Regions from separate parts of the Homo sapiens genome. Here region 2 is linked to region 1. The links come from fine-mapping of genetic effects on gene expression. Tissue or cell type: whole blood. Region 1 holds a variant in brackets; the other region holds the start of a gene. All regions are shown on one strand. Distances are from middle to middle. Region 1 overlaps EPHA4 (EPH receptor A4). Region 2 holds the start of EPHA4 (EPH receptor A4).

The links.
Region 2: EPHA4 starts here. The variant in region 1 is fine-mapped to the expression of EPHA4 in whole blood (INTERVAL, PIP 0.97).

Annotation. Positions count from the first base shown.
Region 1 is chr2:221,532,009-221,540,008 of GRCh38, reverse strand. The region is part of intron 3 of EPHA4 (EPH receptor A4); the gene reads left to right. It also overlaps the pseudogene TMEM256P2. Among named protein-coding and RNA genes, the nearest start is that of EPHA4, 36 kb to the left of the region's middle. The variant G/A (reference allele first, on the strand shown) is at 3,464.
Region 2 is chr2:221,568,827-221,577,342 of GRCh38, reverse strand. EPHA4 (EPH receptor A4) reads left to right here and starts at 5,039. Exons shown (of 18, transcript NM_004438.5): 1 at 5,039-5,185. The coding sequence starts at 5,095. RefSeq lists an enhancer at 358-870 and silencers at 3,574-3,733, 3,784-4,063, 4,664-5,083.

The DNA of each region.
Region 1 (8,000 bases):
GGCAAAGGTTGCAGTGAGTGGAGATCGTGGTATATTGCACTCCAGCCTGGGCAACAGAGTGAGACTCCATCTCAGAAAAAACAAAAAGAAAAAAGAAAACTGGCTTGTAAAGATGCACAAGTGCCAAGTGCCAATAAATGAGTGTACCAACACATCTTTCTTCTTCTATCTGCTCCCCTCCTCCACACCCTTCCAGCCTTCATTGTATTGGGGGATTACAAGTCTTCCTAAATCTGAGTGTTGATCCTGTGATCACTCCTACTCTGAAACCACCATTGGCTTTTAAATATTAGCTCTTATTTCTACCACTACTACTCCCGTGACTACTCCGCGTTACTGGGGCCCTGTGTCAAAGCTCTAACGTCGGTGAGAGGAGTTTACGCTGTATTTTAGGATAGGTCTCCAAGCTCTTTCTTCAAAGCTCCTTCACTATTCTAAGAATCTAGCTGCTGTGCCTTTTTCTACACAATTTACCCTGCCCCAAAGGCCCTCCTGCTGGTCACAATTTTGCACATTCCACAAGGTTCTACAGAAGCATCATTTTTTTCTTCTCTCTCCTAACTCCCACCAGCATTTTGATTGCGTTCCTTCATGTCACTTATGCTGTGTAATGCCATCTTATCGGACTTGTTAGGGCACAGAGTACAGTATTACTCAGTGAGTAATTGTTCTGCCATTTATTAGCTATTTGACTTCAGGCAAATTAATAATTTTTCTCTGTACTTGGTTTTCTCATATATAAAATGCAAGTAGTAATAGTTCCTACAACATCAGCTTGTCGTCATAAGTAAATACGTGAAACACACATGAACCGTGGCTGGGACGCAGAAATCCTGCAATCAATATTAGCGCTTACTCCTACTCCTGCTACTGCTGCTACTACTCCTGGATTGTCATGGCCCTGTGTCAGGACCTTGAACTTGGTAAAAGGAGTGTAGGCTGGGCTCTAGACCCCACTTTCCCCTTCAGTTGGATACTCTTTTTCAGTGAACAACCTGTACAACTATATATGGCAGTTCTGTACCAGAATCTATGCACTTCCCAGGCTAAGTCTGTATTTATCTTTGCATTCACTATAGCACCTAAAACAATACAGTACATAGAGTCCTATTCAGTCATTGCACGCCACGTGTGATCATTGAAATGAACGAAGAAACAAATGTAAAAAGGAAAATGTAAAAATGTCAATATGGTTTTATTTGTAAGCAGCCCATTGATTTTTGAAGCATACTCACCGAATACATCATGTATTTTCAGTGAGAAAGCAGTATTTGTCACAATACTAGAAATGTCATAAATTTAAAGAGTAATTGAGTCTGAATTTTCTGCAGGTTTATTTACTAGATCAAAGAGTGACTTCAACTTTCAGTGCTTATTTTATTTGCCAGCATAAACTTACAGGTTCAGTCAAATGCCAAGAAAATAAGTTAATAATCTAAATTATGCAGATTCTGGCAAATTCTCTTTCTTTTGGGGGAGAAAAAAAGAGAGAGCTTTGAGTTTTTATCTCACTTCAGCAAATCCAACTGACTATAATAGTAAGAATAAAACTCTAGCAATTAATCTAATAGCTCTAGGCTGCTAGTCATTCCAGAAAAGTGACATTACACAGAATATACTAGTTACTCTCATTGCATGTCATTGATATATAATTCAATTGATTTTCACATTTTTTACACTCCAAAATGAAATACAACTTTTGTCATGTCACCAGATTGGAATTCATTGACAATACATTAACATGCCAAAAATAATATTACACACAAGAATAATGTAGAAATAAATTACAGGTAGAGCAGTATCCCTAAGGAGATTTTCATTTGTGTCCTATAACAGAAGACTTATAACCCTACTCATACATCTGTTTCATCCCACTACGTTTTAGACTCTTCGTTCAATTCAATAAATTACTCATTTTGCCACACACTCAGCACTCTGTCAGTTTTGCTGGGCAGTATACTTACACAAAAGAGTCTGTATAATTCTAAAGTATAACCCCCCCTTTTTTTTTAGCAAACAAATACAGAGACTTTCATGCAAATGAATCCTTGAAAAAGATAGTCTGGATAACTGTAAGGCTGCCACAACTTTTGTGGAAATGTTTTGGAACTGTCTTCTTCAAAATGTCTGGGACCTTCTTTTTATTGATAATCTCCTCCTCCTCCTTCTTCGTCATCGTCATCTTTGTCTTTCTTCTTCCTTCTTTCTTCTTCTTCTTTTCGATGGAATCTCACTCTATTGCCTAGGCTAGAGTGCAATGGCACCATCATAGCTCATTGCAGCCTCCAACTCTTAGGTTCAAATGATCCTCCGGCCTCAGCCTCCTGAGTAGCTAGGGCTACAGGTGTGCACCACTGCACCTTGCTAAATTTTTAATTTTTTGTAGAGATGAGTGGTCTTATTTTGTGGCCCTGGCTAGTCCTAAACTCCTGGCTTCAAGCACTGTTCACCTCCTTGGCCTCCCAAAGTACTTGCATTACAGATGTGAGCCACTGTGCCAGGCCTGGGGCCTTCTTTTTAAATGTGCTTAGTTCTGAACAATTTTGTCCCTTAAGGTGGATTTAATTTTTGGAAATCAAATAATTCACTGACCAGGCTATTGATAAATGAGATCAGCCATACTGGGTAATATTGGGTTTTACTCAAGAACAATGAGTGATTGCAAAGTAACAGACTATTTTTAGGAGTGACTTTTAAATTGCTTTGAGTGTACTTTCAAGAGAAGTATTTGGAGCACTGAGAACATAAGTGGAAGAAGAATGTGGAAGATCTCCAGCATCCTTGGATTTAGCTGTCAATTACAATGCTACTTCCATGAGAGAAGGCTTTGTTTTTTGGGCCTTGCTTGTTTTTTGCAGGACTCTCAGAGCCTAAAACTGAGCCTGACACACAGTTGTTATTGAAAGGAATGAATGAATGGATTAAATGCAACAGTTCACAAATGCATTCAAAGTCCCACGGCATAGAGATTTCTCTCTCTCTCTTTGTTTTAGCCTTTATGGCATTAATTTAAAATAATTTATGTTAAGGTCGCTATGTATTTACCTGATGAGAACTTGGCTTTGTGCTAAGCACTTTATTTTCAGTATTTCATTGTGTCACCATGACTTGGTGAAATAGTGACTGTCATTATCCTCTTTTCATAGATGAGGAAACTAAAGCCCAGAGAAGCTAAGCAGCTTGCCCAAAGTCACACAGCTAATAGGTGAGGAGTCTGGATTCAACCTGCAAAGTCTGGCCACTGACCAAGCCTTCACCCTTAACTACAAATCTGGGCTGCTTTTCAGCACATCTTTGTTGTCCTGATTTGGTCATATTCTCACATTATGTTTCAATCATTCTAAACTGGGTATATAATAACCCCCTTTGAGAGACAAGGGAATTGACCAAAGTACATTGTTTAGAGGGATTTTCTGAAGAATGACTTCATGGATGAAGCATGGACTTATTATTACCTCCTTAT[G/A]GCCTCTGTCTCCAAATGTAATCACATTGGGGGTTAGGGCTTAATTATTGGGAATTAATGAGGATTTGGGGAAACATCTTTCAAGAATGCCAGGGTCTAGTGCAGAGCATCGTAAGGCCGGTAATCTGGAGGGCAGCCTTCAGTGAGCAGGTTCGCATTCTAGTACAGGGATTAAAAACCATTTCTCATTTAAAGCCCACATTTCCAAAAGGCTTATAATCTTTAGAGGAATACAATACAAGAGGGTGGGAGACTGTTTCTAATTTTTATTCTGAATAATTATCTGATCTGATCATGGACAAGTTCCTTAGGCTGCCACATTAGTTTCCTCATCTAGAAAATAGCTAACTGGACAAGGTCATCCACAGGGTGCCCGGTAGCTCTTAAGTGTCAAAATGAGTGATAAGATAAAGTGCTCTTTTGCCAAAGATAAGAAGGACTATCTTTGTTGACAGTTATCTAGAAAGGCTTCCAAGAATAGGAACTTGGTAAACTGTAGTTAAATAAAGCTGGTAAAAGAGGAATGAATATCCCTTGAGCCAAGAACAGGAGTTAGCTGCCACACCCTGGGGTTGAAGAGACTGGGTAGGTAGGTGGAGCTGAGTTTTGAAAGATTTTTGAAGAGCAGAGGAAGAGTTTGGTCTCTACCCCTGGCTCGTTCATCAGATATTTCTTGATTGCCATCTATCTTCCAGCCATTGAGAGCCATTGATCATGTAAGATTCTTTCCCTACTGGAGTTGGGAAAGATATTTCATCCAACCAAAGGGAATGTGCCCTTGATATGAAGATTTGTAATGTTTACCAAAAAATCTTTGTTCTACCACTTTAGGCATAGAAGAAGAAGATAAGAAAAGCCTCACAGTAAAGTTGACTTGCAGGTTATATTTAAAGGATGATTGTCTTTATTTGAACAAAAGGAGAAAATAACAAATCCGTTGTTTGAAGAGGAAAAAAAACAGAAAAAAAGAAGTGCCTTTGATTTGGCATAATTGATGCTTTATTGCTTTGTAGATAGGTGGTTTAGGGCATTGGACAAAAGACGATAATGTTTATTTAGATTTGGGATTTGGGACTGTTCTAGAAAGTCAATATATGGTTGTTACTTTTAGTAGCTGTAAGAATGGCATAAGATAACTTAGTGGAAGGTAAGTGCTTTCTGAGCTTTTCTGTCTGATGATGAACCCTAGTGGTTGCAAAAATGAGTTTATACCTTAGAATCATTTGAGGTACTGATTACAAATGTACACTTTTAACATCAATCCTCAAGACTTTAGAGTTTGGAGTCTGTGATCTGAATTTTTCACAAGCTCCTAGGTGGTTCTGATTAATTTAGGTTGAGGAACAGCATTTTGGAAGCCACAGGTAAACTTGTGTATTGCCCACACCACTAAGGCTGACTCTGGATGACACCCAGTTGAAAGTGATTTCCAGGTTCCCTTGCTAAGTAAAAGATCCAAGAGAGAGAATAGTGCTGCTTATTTCTTTTTAACTGGATAAGATTGAAAAGGTCTGTGGATCCAATAGCGATGGAGAACGTGCAGAAGCTGCACCCCGAATTGCCGATGAAGTTAATCCCAGACAGCTAGAAATTAGCCAGTATAGCACATATGCTTAGATTGGATGCTGTGAATATATGCTTTCTGGTCAACAAAAAAGTTAAATCATGTAGATGCTCAAGTGAAGAGCACCTCTGTCGACTGGAAAGAGTTGAGTTATTTACCTTTTTTCCCCCAGAAACTGTTTCTTGAGGTGGAAAAGCAACTGGAAGTACAACTACACAGAACTGAAAGGCTATTGAGTTTGATTATGGGCATAAAATTAAATTTTCAGCTAAATGTGACAGCCCTAGTAGAACAAAGAAGAACCAATCAAAAAGTTATTGACTATTGAGACTTTTAGACAGAGCTAACAAATTGACCATGGGTTCCAGGGATAGTCACAGCCTGGAAGTTGCTTATTCTCTTTCTTCTAAAAGGTAGGGAAGTTCACACAACCACAGCCACTGTAGCCAGGCCAGGGAAGAAGGCCAATTTAGGCATTTACCAGCATGTGCAAGATGCAGTTTTTCATCTGAGGGGGTGAGACCTTTTCTAGGTGCCTGTGTTAGAACTTGGAGCACTTGCAGGTAATGAGAACGCATTCCAATACAAGAAAAACCTATTTAGGGCAGTACTGGATATGGATTAGCCAAGAAGATCCACAGATCAAAATAGAATCCAGGGCAGAAACAGAGCAGAGAAATTTCCCAGAGCCACTTATGGGTAAGTGGAACACCAATGATTTACTAATTACAGGCATGTTTTTGCACAAATTCATTTTTTAGTAAACAAGATATGCTTTATGCTACTTGCAGGCCATTCTTAAATCATTCTTTTGGGAATCCTTATAAAGACATCAGTTAAAAATCTCATCTGTTATCCTTCAAGAGAAGTAGTTGGCATGATTTTTGAAATTGAGTCCCTGCCTACCTAGATTCAACAGATTAAATATGAATTATCAGTGGATAATTACCTAGGGCTGTTCTTATATGTATATTTTATTTCCTTAAGTGTGAAGCACATGGAGTGTCACGCAGATGTGGGAAAAGGTAACTCACAAGGATCTTTTGCCCAGAACTCTTCTGGTAGGGCGCTGCTGGCTCTTCCAGTATGCACCCAAGGTGGCAAAGAGTCTGCCTGTCAATGGTATCCAGAAGTGACAGTGGGGATAGCCCTGGAGAAGGTTGTTTGGATTTTCATAAGGGAGAGATTCTCTCTCTGATCTTTATAATCTGAATCCTACCCTCACAGGCTTTTTTTTTTTTTTTTTTTTTTTTTTTGACACTAGTCACAAAATTAACAGTCAGGATGCTTTTGAAATCAGAACAATTTCCCTGGAGGAGGCACAGCCCCCGGTACCATCATTATTATATATGTTTTGAAACTCCATAGACTGGAACTCGTTCAGCGTGCTGTAATCTGTGTGTTTAGAAGCTGTATTGACTTTAGGAGTCACACAGATGGGTGTAGACCCATGTTTCAACATTTTTCTTTCAGGGACACACCTTTGAAATTCTGCTTGGAACATATCAGCTTCCTCCTCCCTCCGAGTCATCAGCCATCTCAGTGAATAGCGCATCTGCATCCTTTATTGATACATACGGGGGCAGGGGTGAGGGCAGTTACTGCCTCTGCCTCTGTTTTCTCATTCAAATATTAGCAAAGGTCCACAAACAGAAATAGAGAAACCAGATTAAAGAGGACAGATTGTATTTATGGTAGGCTGTAACACATTTTGATCAACAACAACAAAAAAGTTTTTGGAGCTATGGGGCTGCCTGATGGTAGGATACATACTGGGTTTATTATAATGCATGTACATTGTTCAATGTAACTTTCCCATCATTTTTATGCCAAGGCCATATGTATGGCTCAGATGAAATGTAACTGGCAATTTTTCATTGTTGTTGTTCTTTATTTACCTTTCTCTTTTAATCATCTCCCTGTTCCAACTAAACAAATCACCCCCAAAAGCCAGTGATTAAACACAAGTGAGTTCAAAGAGCCAAGGCAAGTCTGCCCAAGAGTGGCCGACTCCCCCTACAGAAGGCCAAGTCTGCCAATTGCAGTCTTCACTCAGAGCCTGGTAGTAAAACTGCTGAGAATAAGGTGGTTTCAGAGGCAAACAGTCACCTGGCCCAGAGGGCTTCTGCAATGGAGCCCCCTCAGAAGGGCTAGGCTATGTGAGAAGTGGTGGGTGTTGGCCGTGTCAAACAGCTCCTTCCAGTAGGCATCCAGGAACTGAGTGGTGTGCACCCCTTAGGAGGCCAAGCCTAAGGCACCAGCTACAGACAAGGTGCCCAGGTGGCAGAATGCAGCCCCTGGCCCGGCCAAGGCTGTGTGGATCTATAACAGACAATTTTGGCATGACTGCATTGACTTTCACTCTGGTCTTCTGGGTTCTAAAATGTTGGTTCCTTAAGTAGGAACTAAAAGTTAATATCTGCCCTTGTGATGACTAGGAATTTGGTTAATTCATGTGCCTGCTTAGCAAATTAAAATGGCCAGTAATCAGAACTAGAATGTTAAATCTCAACTGATCTGAGTTTTTCTCATCTTTTGATAGAATAAATTGAACTATCTGGCTGGGCACAGTGGCTCACACCTGTCATCCCAGCAGTTTGGGAGGCTAAGGCAGTCAGATTACCTGAGTTCAGGAGTTTTAGACCAGTCTGGCCATTATGGTGAAACCCCGTCTCTACTAAAAATACAAAAATTAGCCACGCATGGCAGCACGTGCCTATAATCCCAGCTACTCTGGAGGCTGAGGCAGGAGAATTGCTTGAACCCTGGAGGCAGAGCTTGCAGTGAGCCAAGATCATGCCACTGCACTCCAGCCTGGGCGACAGAGTGAGACCCTGTCTCAAAAAAAAAAAAAAGAATAAATTGAAATATCTGTGTGACAATTGCCTGGTGTTTGAAATTCCCCTTTTCAAACATCCCAGCATATTTGGTTTGTCTCAGTGAGCTCTCCTTTGAAAGAGCACTGGCTACTCC
Region 2 (8,516 bases), 37 kb before region 1:
TTGGTACATTGTAGACACTGAAGAAATGTTTGTTAGAACCGAGTAAAATTCACGGACGGCATCAAATGAAGTTTTAGAAAAGCCTTGCTCCCTTGAGAACTGCAACCTTCCTGTCTGCCCCTCCTCACCTCAGTGATGCAAAAGAGATTATTATTCTAAGTGAAGTAACTCAGGAATGGAACACCAAACATCCTAAGTTCTCACTGATATGTGGGAACTAAGCTATGAGGATGCAAAGGCATAAGAATAATACAGTGGACTTTGGGGACTTGGGGGGAAGATGGGAGGGGGCAAAGGATAAAAGACAACAAATACGGTGCAATGTATACTGCTCGGGTGATGGGGGCACCACGATCTCACAAATCTCCACTGAAGAACTTACTCATGTAGCTAAATACCACCTATACCCCAACAACTTATTAAAAAAATGAAACAAACAAACAAAAAAAGGCCTCTTGCTTTGTCTTGCTCTCTCATCCTCTTGATGCATGAAGACCTGAGCTCTGCAGCCATTTTTTTTCCCACTCAGGTGTAAAGGGCTCATAAGTGTCCTGCTTCTTATTTGCATAACAAACAGCATCAAAGCCTTGACATCAAAGGATGAACTCTGCAGTTAGGTTTCCTGGGGGCTTCCGGAAGCCCACCAATTGTTGTGTCAAATTTGTATATTTAAGATGCAGTAGCTTGTGGTAGAAGCGTTTTCTAACAACGGTGGGAATTTCATTAGGTAGAGCTTTGGTTATTCATTACCACTTGGTTGTGGGACTCTGGATTCCTCACACCTTCTTTCACGTATTTTTTACACTATTCTATTTGAAGACAAGCATAGCCTCTAGGTCCAAATCCAGTGGAATTACCTAGGAATATAAAAGTTGGATGTCAGCTGTCATAAATCAACAATAAAAGAAGAGAAGAATTTAGAATTTATTTCCCTTCCCTACTCTAGGAGTTAATAAAATAAAGCATCTTATTTTCTCATGGAGCACGAAAGGTAAATCACAGTGCTTGGTTTCCTTCTGGAAGGAACAATTCAAGCTGAACAAATGATTTCTCATTTCAAAATGTGAATGCTTATTAATTAAATATTATTTTACAGAAACAATAGCCAGGCATGGTGGCTCATGACTATAATCCCAGCATTTTAGGAGGATGAGGCAGGAGGATTGCTTGAGCCCAGGATTTTGAGACCAGCCTGGGCAACATGGTGAAACCCCATCTTTACTAAAAATACAAAAAATTAGCCAGGTGTGGTGGCACACATCTGTAGTTCTAGGTATCCAGGAGGCTGAGGTGAGAGTATCACGTGAGCCTGGGGAGGGTGAGGCTGTGGTGAGCCATGATCACACCACTGCAATCCAGCCTGGGTGACCTGAGTGAGACCCTGTCTCATAAAATAAAAATAAAAATAAAAATGAGTAATAACAGCTGGCTAACACACGCCAGGTACTATACCAGAAGCTCTATAACATTCATTCAGTATTTAGAAGAACCATATAATGTTAACTATCTACAATTTGTAGATGAGAAAACCATATCTCAGAGAGGTCAAGGAACTTAAAGACACACAGCTAGAAAAAGCCCAGCTAAAGTATCAAATTGGGGTTGTCTGAATTGAAAGTTCTGGTTCTCTAAAAGAGAACTCAGGGAGTCATTGGAGCACTATGGGCAGGTTCCATTTTTTTCACAAAAAATCCACCAGGATGCCTAGAAAAAGCAGAGTGGATTCATCTTCTTATTCTCTCTGTCTCTCCAGTCTTTCATACACCCTCCTTATCATTATTTGTCTACGGGTCAAAGGCTCCTTTCTCTTTACTTTGGTGAAATTGGCCCTCCACATACAGGTGGAAACCCCGGGATGCTTGGTGCTATTTACAAACGTCTTTTACGGATTAAAAACACCTTTGGAATTCAATCTTAATTCAATTCAGCATTTACAAGGTACTTCGTAGCTCAAACGTTTGTGGTAGGCACTGTATAAAAAAAAGTATATCATTGTTTTCAGATTATTCAATTACTATTTTCATTAAGTGTGTAAGCAGATATGTTTTGACATGTTTCTTAGTGTATTCAAAATAACCCCAAATTTTTACTGTAGTAAGACTTGTCTTACTCAAGAGTAAAGCAATTTTATTTTAAAATTAGGTGATTTTAGGTACTTTTTTAAAGGTATGATATTCCATTGTATCCTTATGACTCCGTTGATGTGTTGTAAACAGTCTCCAACATTTGAAAACTCCAGGTTGTCTTCCCATAATGTGGGTGGTTTTCTGCATTGATGGTGGCCTTTGTCCACCATCATTTTTAAAATTTTGCCTTACTCTTCAAGGAATCATATCTGCTAGGTTAGAACACCTTTGTTCTAGGTAGTCACAATGGACAGAGGAATTTTCAGCAGCTCATTTCTGTTCTGCAACCCAGAAATGATTTAAAGAGGAAGTTATAGTTCAGTTTTTCCAAGTTAGCATTTCCTGCTTCTTGGTTCTCCTGATTATCGGGCTGCCTTGGGTCCTGAACTAAAACATAGGAAGAAAAAAGGGAAAGTCAGTGAATGTACTCTAGCAAATGATGCCTTGCTTTCAGGCAGCTGTGTCTGGAAAGACTTTGTTTAATATTCAATGTGCATATCCTGGGGAAAAAAATGGTACATGTTTTAGAAATTTTACTGTTTATAACAATGCAGGCAGTCAGTTTCCCGTTTCAAACACAGATAGATACATGCAACACTCAAGATCCTGCAGAGAGGCAGCCAGCATCTATTGTTTAAAAAGGTTTCAAAAAGAATTCGGATTGCTCTTTTCTCTTTTGAATCTGTGTGCCAAATGACAGGGACCAATATTCGTCTTCTTTTTCTGTAAAACTCAGAAAGACACATGAAAGAACCCAGAAATGCATTTCTTAAAGGGATTTAGTGCAGTTATTTTAAATAATTTATGCACGCACACACACATACATATATCCCCCGAGTACATATTTTTTCCCTTTTTACTTGTGTGCAATCAGTAGCTACAATGACTGAAATCCACTTCTTTGGACTGTGACATTTAAGCAAATCTTGTATCTAGAAACCGAAATGCCCAGAGTCTCGCACAAGCTGTTCGTCTGGGCCACCAACTCACACAGCCGCCGCCCAGCGCCTCGGCACGCGTGCTCATCTTGTGTAAAAGTAAAAGTTGCTCATGTCATTAGCTCGGCTCTGAGTTTGCATGAGAAACCAGCGCAGCTCTCGAGCCACGGGAGAAAACACGATCTGCTGCGGAGCCCAGTGACCTGAAACTGTAGCAGTGACTCGAGACCTGTCCTCTCCTCGACGTCGCCCTATAACCCTCCCGCTTTATTTAGGATCCGCTTTTCCGAGAGCAGCCACTCAGGCAACCCCCGGAAGGTTTGTTAGGAGTTTCTCCTTGAAACGCTTTCCGATTCCATCTTTTGAAATCCAGCAGGCGAGAGTCACGACAGACTCCAGGACCTCTTGAGCGCTGTCCGCAGCCCCACGGTAGGAGTAGCCCTAGTGCACGAGACTTGGCGGTGGCTGAAAAGCTCGCCCAAACGCACGCACCACCTCTCTGCGGGGTTGCGGATTGCGGGTTGCGGTCTTTGTCCGCTCGCCCTTCCTCCGGGGCCGCACACTCCCGCATCTGGCCGGCAGGTGGCGCGGTTGGCTCACGATGAGCTGCGGCCGGGGCTGGAGAGGCTCCTCCACCTCCCAGCGGCCGCCCGGCCGCCGGGACCCAGGCTCCCCAGGAAAACTCGGCCCTGCTCTGGAGGGAGTCAGAGGAGGGGCGGCCTGGGAAGGGGAAGGGAGGCCTCATTGCTAGGAATCAGTGCCCCTGCCAGCGCCTGGGGAAATGCACCGAGTGGCGTTGGGGACCGGTCCCTGGGACACCGGCTGCGCTGCCTTCGCCGGACCGCTCTTAGGTGGCCGCGTCCACGGCTCGGGCATCGGGAAAAGACCACAGCCCGATGGTGCCAGTGCCCCCGGGGCCGGAGCAGCCGGGCGGGGCTCTGCGGGTCCTCCTGCTCGCCGTCTTCTCCCGGGGCAGGGAGGGCTGCCCCGGCTAGGTCGGAGCGGAGAGTCGCAGCAGCCGCTCCGGGCAGCTTCCCAGTCCCGGTCTGCCTTGTCTGTGCGGCTGCAAGTCCCCGCACCCACACTTAAGCCTTTCACTTCTACCCCACCGCTCCCAGACGGGCTAGGCCCGGTTCCAGGGACTGCCCCCAACCCTGCCCCCGGGAAATCCACAACTGGTTCCCTGCCCAAGGCCATCTCGGGGCGTCCTGGGCCCTGGGCGAGGTCCACGGCGTGTGCAGGGGGACGGGGCCAGCGGGGACTTCCTTACTGCTAGAAAGTCATTCGTTCAGTCTCTGGAGACAGTGACGGAGCCCTGCTGCGGACTGGACGTTGGGGACCAAGTAGGTCCCCGCTCTCCAGGCATCTGGGGAGCCAGGGAAGAAGCGAGTGATAGAGCCACAAAACTCCCCGCAAAGAGTATTTCAGAGGGGGAAGCGCCATAAAGACAAAACAGGGCAAGGTGGCAGAGGGTGGCGGTGGCAGGCGCGAGTCTGCAGCTCAGCCCGGGCGCGCTGGACGCAGACACGTCGACTCTCCTAAAGAAGCAACCGCAGGTCAGCTTAGACTTCTTTTATTTCAATAAAAGAGCGTTTTCCTCCATCTTAAACCGCCCGTGGTGGGAGAAAAGGTTTCCAACCTCTTCTCTGGCTCCCCTCGGTCAATTCCGAGCTTTTCCAAAGTCCCTCCGCCGTCCAGGGGCTCGACCTTCGAGGTAACGTGGGGGATCCCGCTGGCTCCCTCCGGCAGGCGGGGGCGGGGACCGGCCGTGCTCGCCCCCTAGAGCCCCGGGAGACCGCGCGCCCCGTGGAGCCCGGAGGGGGCGGAACCCTGGGGCGGGCCCTGCTCGGTGAAGGCGGGGCTCGGCCGCCCTGTCTGCGCCGCCATTGGCCGCGGGCCCCGGACTGGCGGGCTCACGTCACCGGCCGGGCCCGCCCCCTTGGCAATGTCTTCAGCCCGCTGCTCTCCTAACTTAAGCATTTATTCCACTGGGATAGAAGCGGCAGGAGCAGCGTTGGCACCGGCGAACCATGGCTGGGATTTTCTATTTCGCCCTATTTTCGTGTCTCTTCGGGATTTGCGACGCTGTCACAGGTTCCAGGGTATACCCCGCGAATGAAGGTAAGAGCGGGACGGCCTTTCTGTGGTCGGGGACAGCGAGGGGCCATCGCGGGTGAGGGGTCCTCAGGAGCGCAGGGCCAGGTGGTGCGGGGGGAGCCCAGTGTGAATGGTGCGTCCCGATTCGGGAGAAGGGGGCTGAGGCGAGGGGATCGGCGAAGGGGCAGCGGGGAACCGCCGGACAGCCTGCCCCGAGGCGGTGACCCGTGCACGCGGCGGGTCTGTCCAAGTTTGTAACCAAAGGCCAAAGTTTATCAGCATCCGCCAGAGAGGCCCGCTCGAGGCGCCCTGAGGGGATGCACGGGAGACAACGCCGGGATTTAAAAAAAAAATTACAAGAACCACGTCCTCTCCTGAGCCAGCCCGGGGCGAGGGGAAAACGCAGCCTGGAGCACAGTGAAGGCTTGGTGCTCCCGGATTCTAGCGAAAGCCTTTCGAGCTCTGGTTTCTGCAAAGTTTCCCGAGCCCTGCGCTTCTCGGGACCGGGCTGCGGGGCCTGCTCCGCAGCGCAGCGGTCGTGGCGCCGCTCGTCAGGCGCCAGTGACCTGATTTCTAGCACCCGGAGTCAGACACCTTTCTCCTCGCCAAGCCCAGCGCCCCGAGGGTGCGATTGCGGGCCTGAGGGGCCCGAGCTCTTCGCCCCGCAGACTTGGGGAACCCGCCGGCAAGTTGAACGCAGTCGAGTTTTAGCTTTTCGCCCCAGAATTGCACACAGTTTAGAGCTAACGTGCGGGGTCGACGGGACCCGTCTGGGTGCTCAGTTTTCTGTGCATCCGTTCGGACGTGCTGGGAGGATTGTATGTGCCTGTGTGTCTGTGTCGGGAGGTGGGGCGGGGCGGGGGGGCGGTGATCATTTAGTTTCTGAGAAACCCAGGGAGAGGCGAACTGTGTGTGTGTGTGTGTGTATGTGTGGTGTGTGTGTGCATGTCTGCGTGTGTGTGCATGTCTGCATGTGTGGTGTGTGTGCATGTCTGCGTGTGTGTGCATGTCTGCGTGTGTGTGCCTGTGTGTGTGCGCGCGCGTGCAACTGCGTGTATGTAGGTGCGCGAATGCCTGCGTGGAAGCGGACGCGGAGGATTGTATGTCTGTGCGCAGATGTCCTGAGTGTGTGCGCGTGTGTTCGAGTGTATGCTCGTGCTCTGTTCCAGCGTATGCTGGTGCTCTGGCCTGCGTGCATCTAGTCTCACATCCGTCTCTCATTCTTCTCCTTTCCGGCATCCATCTATCTATCCGTCCGTCCATCCGTCTATCTATCCATCCATGCATCCATCCATCTCTCCGTGCATCCGTCCGTCCGTCCATGCATCCATCCATAATGCATCCATCCATATATCTGTCCGTCCGTCCGTCCATCCATCCCTCCATCCATCCACCCATTCATCTATCCATCCATCCACCCATCCATCCATCCATTCATCTTTCCATCTCTCCAGACATCCGTCCATCCATCCCTGTGTAATCTATCGTTTTCTCTGTTCCGAAGGAGGGAGCCAAAAACCAACTTAGCCTTGGCTGGGCAGCCGGTACCCGGAGCCCTCCAGACGGAGGCTCTGAGAGATTTATACACCTGCCCACAGACATCGCTTGGGAGGAAAGGGGCCCTCTCTCGCCCTCTGGATCTCCCATCTCCTTCCGACGTGGCTTCTGGTGGTTCTGGTGCCATCTCGGCCGTCGCCGCCCCTCGGTCCCTAGGGTTATTCATTCCCCTGAGAGGAATCGTGGATCCCGCGTTCTCCTGGCCACTTCACACACTTGTTAGGACGTCCCCTGAGACCTCTCTCGCCCCAGATGTAGAGACTGTTTTCTTTCTTTTTTTTAAACCCCCTCTTTTTTTGGGGGGGGGGGAGAAAAACTTGGGAGCCCAAGACAAAAAGGCTCTGAGAGCCCTAGGCTAATGTTGAAGGGGAGGGAGGGAGGTCTGTTCCCCTCCCCTCCCCCACCTCCCCCTTAAAAATTAATTCACTTTGTTGCTTTCTATTCCCATCACGTTTCCTTTTCTCTCTTTTACCCTCCCTTTCTACTCCCTCCTTTTTTTGTAAATTGGGTCTTATTGTTTCCTTTGTGTCCCTAATCCACCTTACATAAATCCAAATGGATGTAGCGGGCTTTTCTCTAGGGACAGAGAGAAGAGAATGGTTGCGGTGGGGGTTGGCGGTGGGGAGAGGAGAGGAGGGAAGGGGGCGGGAACTCCAGGCGGGAGCGACCCAGGGAAGGCTCTACATTTTAAAATCATTAACAGACCCCAGGAATTCAGACTCCCCGGGAAAAGTAGGGGAAAGAGACTGATTTTTAACTCCATTGACTTTGAGGTGAAATGAGAGGGAAAGTGGGCAGAATCCAGGGGTCTGGGGGTAAGCTTGAGTGTTGGGGTGCGCATGAGCACGGATGGCGGCTTCCCATTCCCACCCCTCCCCCAGCCTGAAGAGCCAGCCTGGCTGATCAAATTAATAACCCAGTGGTTCCTTTGAGGTGGGCCTTTCGACCCCCAGGACTGCAGATCTCGGTGGGAAAGAGAGGTTTTGAATTCATTGCGTCCCTTTGGATGTTCCCCTTACCTAGCGCTCTTCTAGCCTGAGCGGGGTACCGCAGCTCGGTGGGCTGTCCTCCCTTCCCCCCAAGCTTTGACGCACTCAGGTGTAGCACAAGCACACTAAAGCCGTTAGGCAGCACTCCATACCTAAAATTCAAGCCAGTGATTTCCTACGGGTGGAAGACGAGTCTCTGATTGTCCCCCAACACATCTTGAGAAAGAGAGAATACTTTCGGTACGTTTGCATTCTGATTCTGCACGTCTGGCATTCCCTCTTTCTGAAACTTTGATATTTAAAAAAGCAGCGGATACCATATTCAGGGACTATTTACTTGGTTGTGGAAGGGAAAATGTTAGGGAGAGCCTTTTCCTGACCCTTTGGATAGGATACTCTCTGATAGAAGAGAGAATTCACTTGTGGCTCTGTCACCCTGATGAGTTATGTGGTCATCTGAAACTTGCAAAAACAAATAATTCTAGTAGATACCAGACAGAGATGAATGCAGATTTTGCTCTGGAGTGTAACTGCTCTACATAGATGTATTTATCTTTTTGAATTGTACTTCAGATTCTCTATTCATCCTTTTTAGAAAAATGAATCAAGTGAGTCCTAGGATGGAATTTTAAATGTTAAGCAAGTTGAATAAATAAGAACCTGCAGATTTAAAGAGGGGGAGAAGATCAAATGAGTAATGATTATTTACATAAGTGAGCCCAAGTTTAGGTTTTGATCAGTGTTGGATATGCACAGCCTCAGCACATATGGAAACGCTCAGGCAAATGGTTTTTGTGTTATTGGCTTTT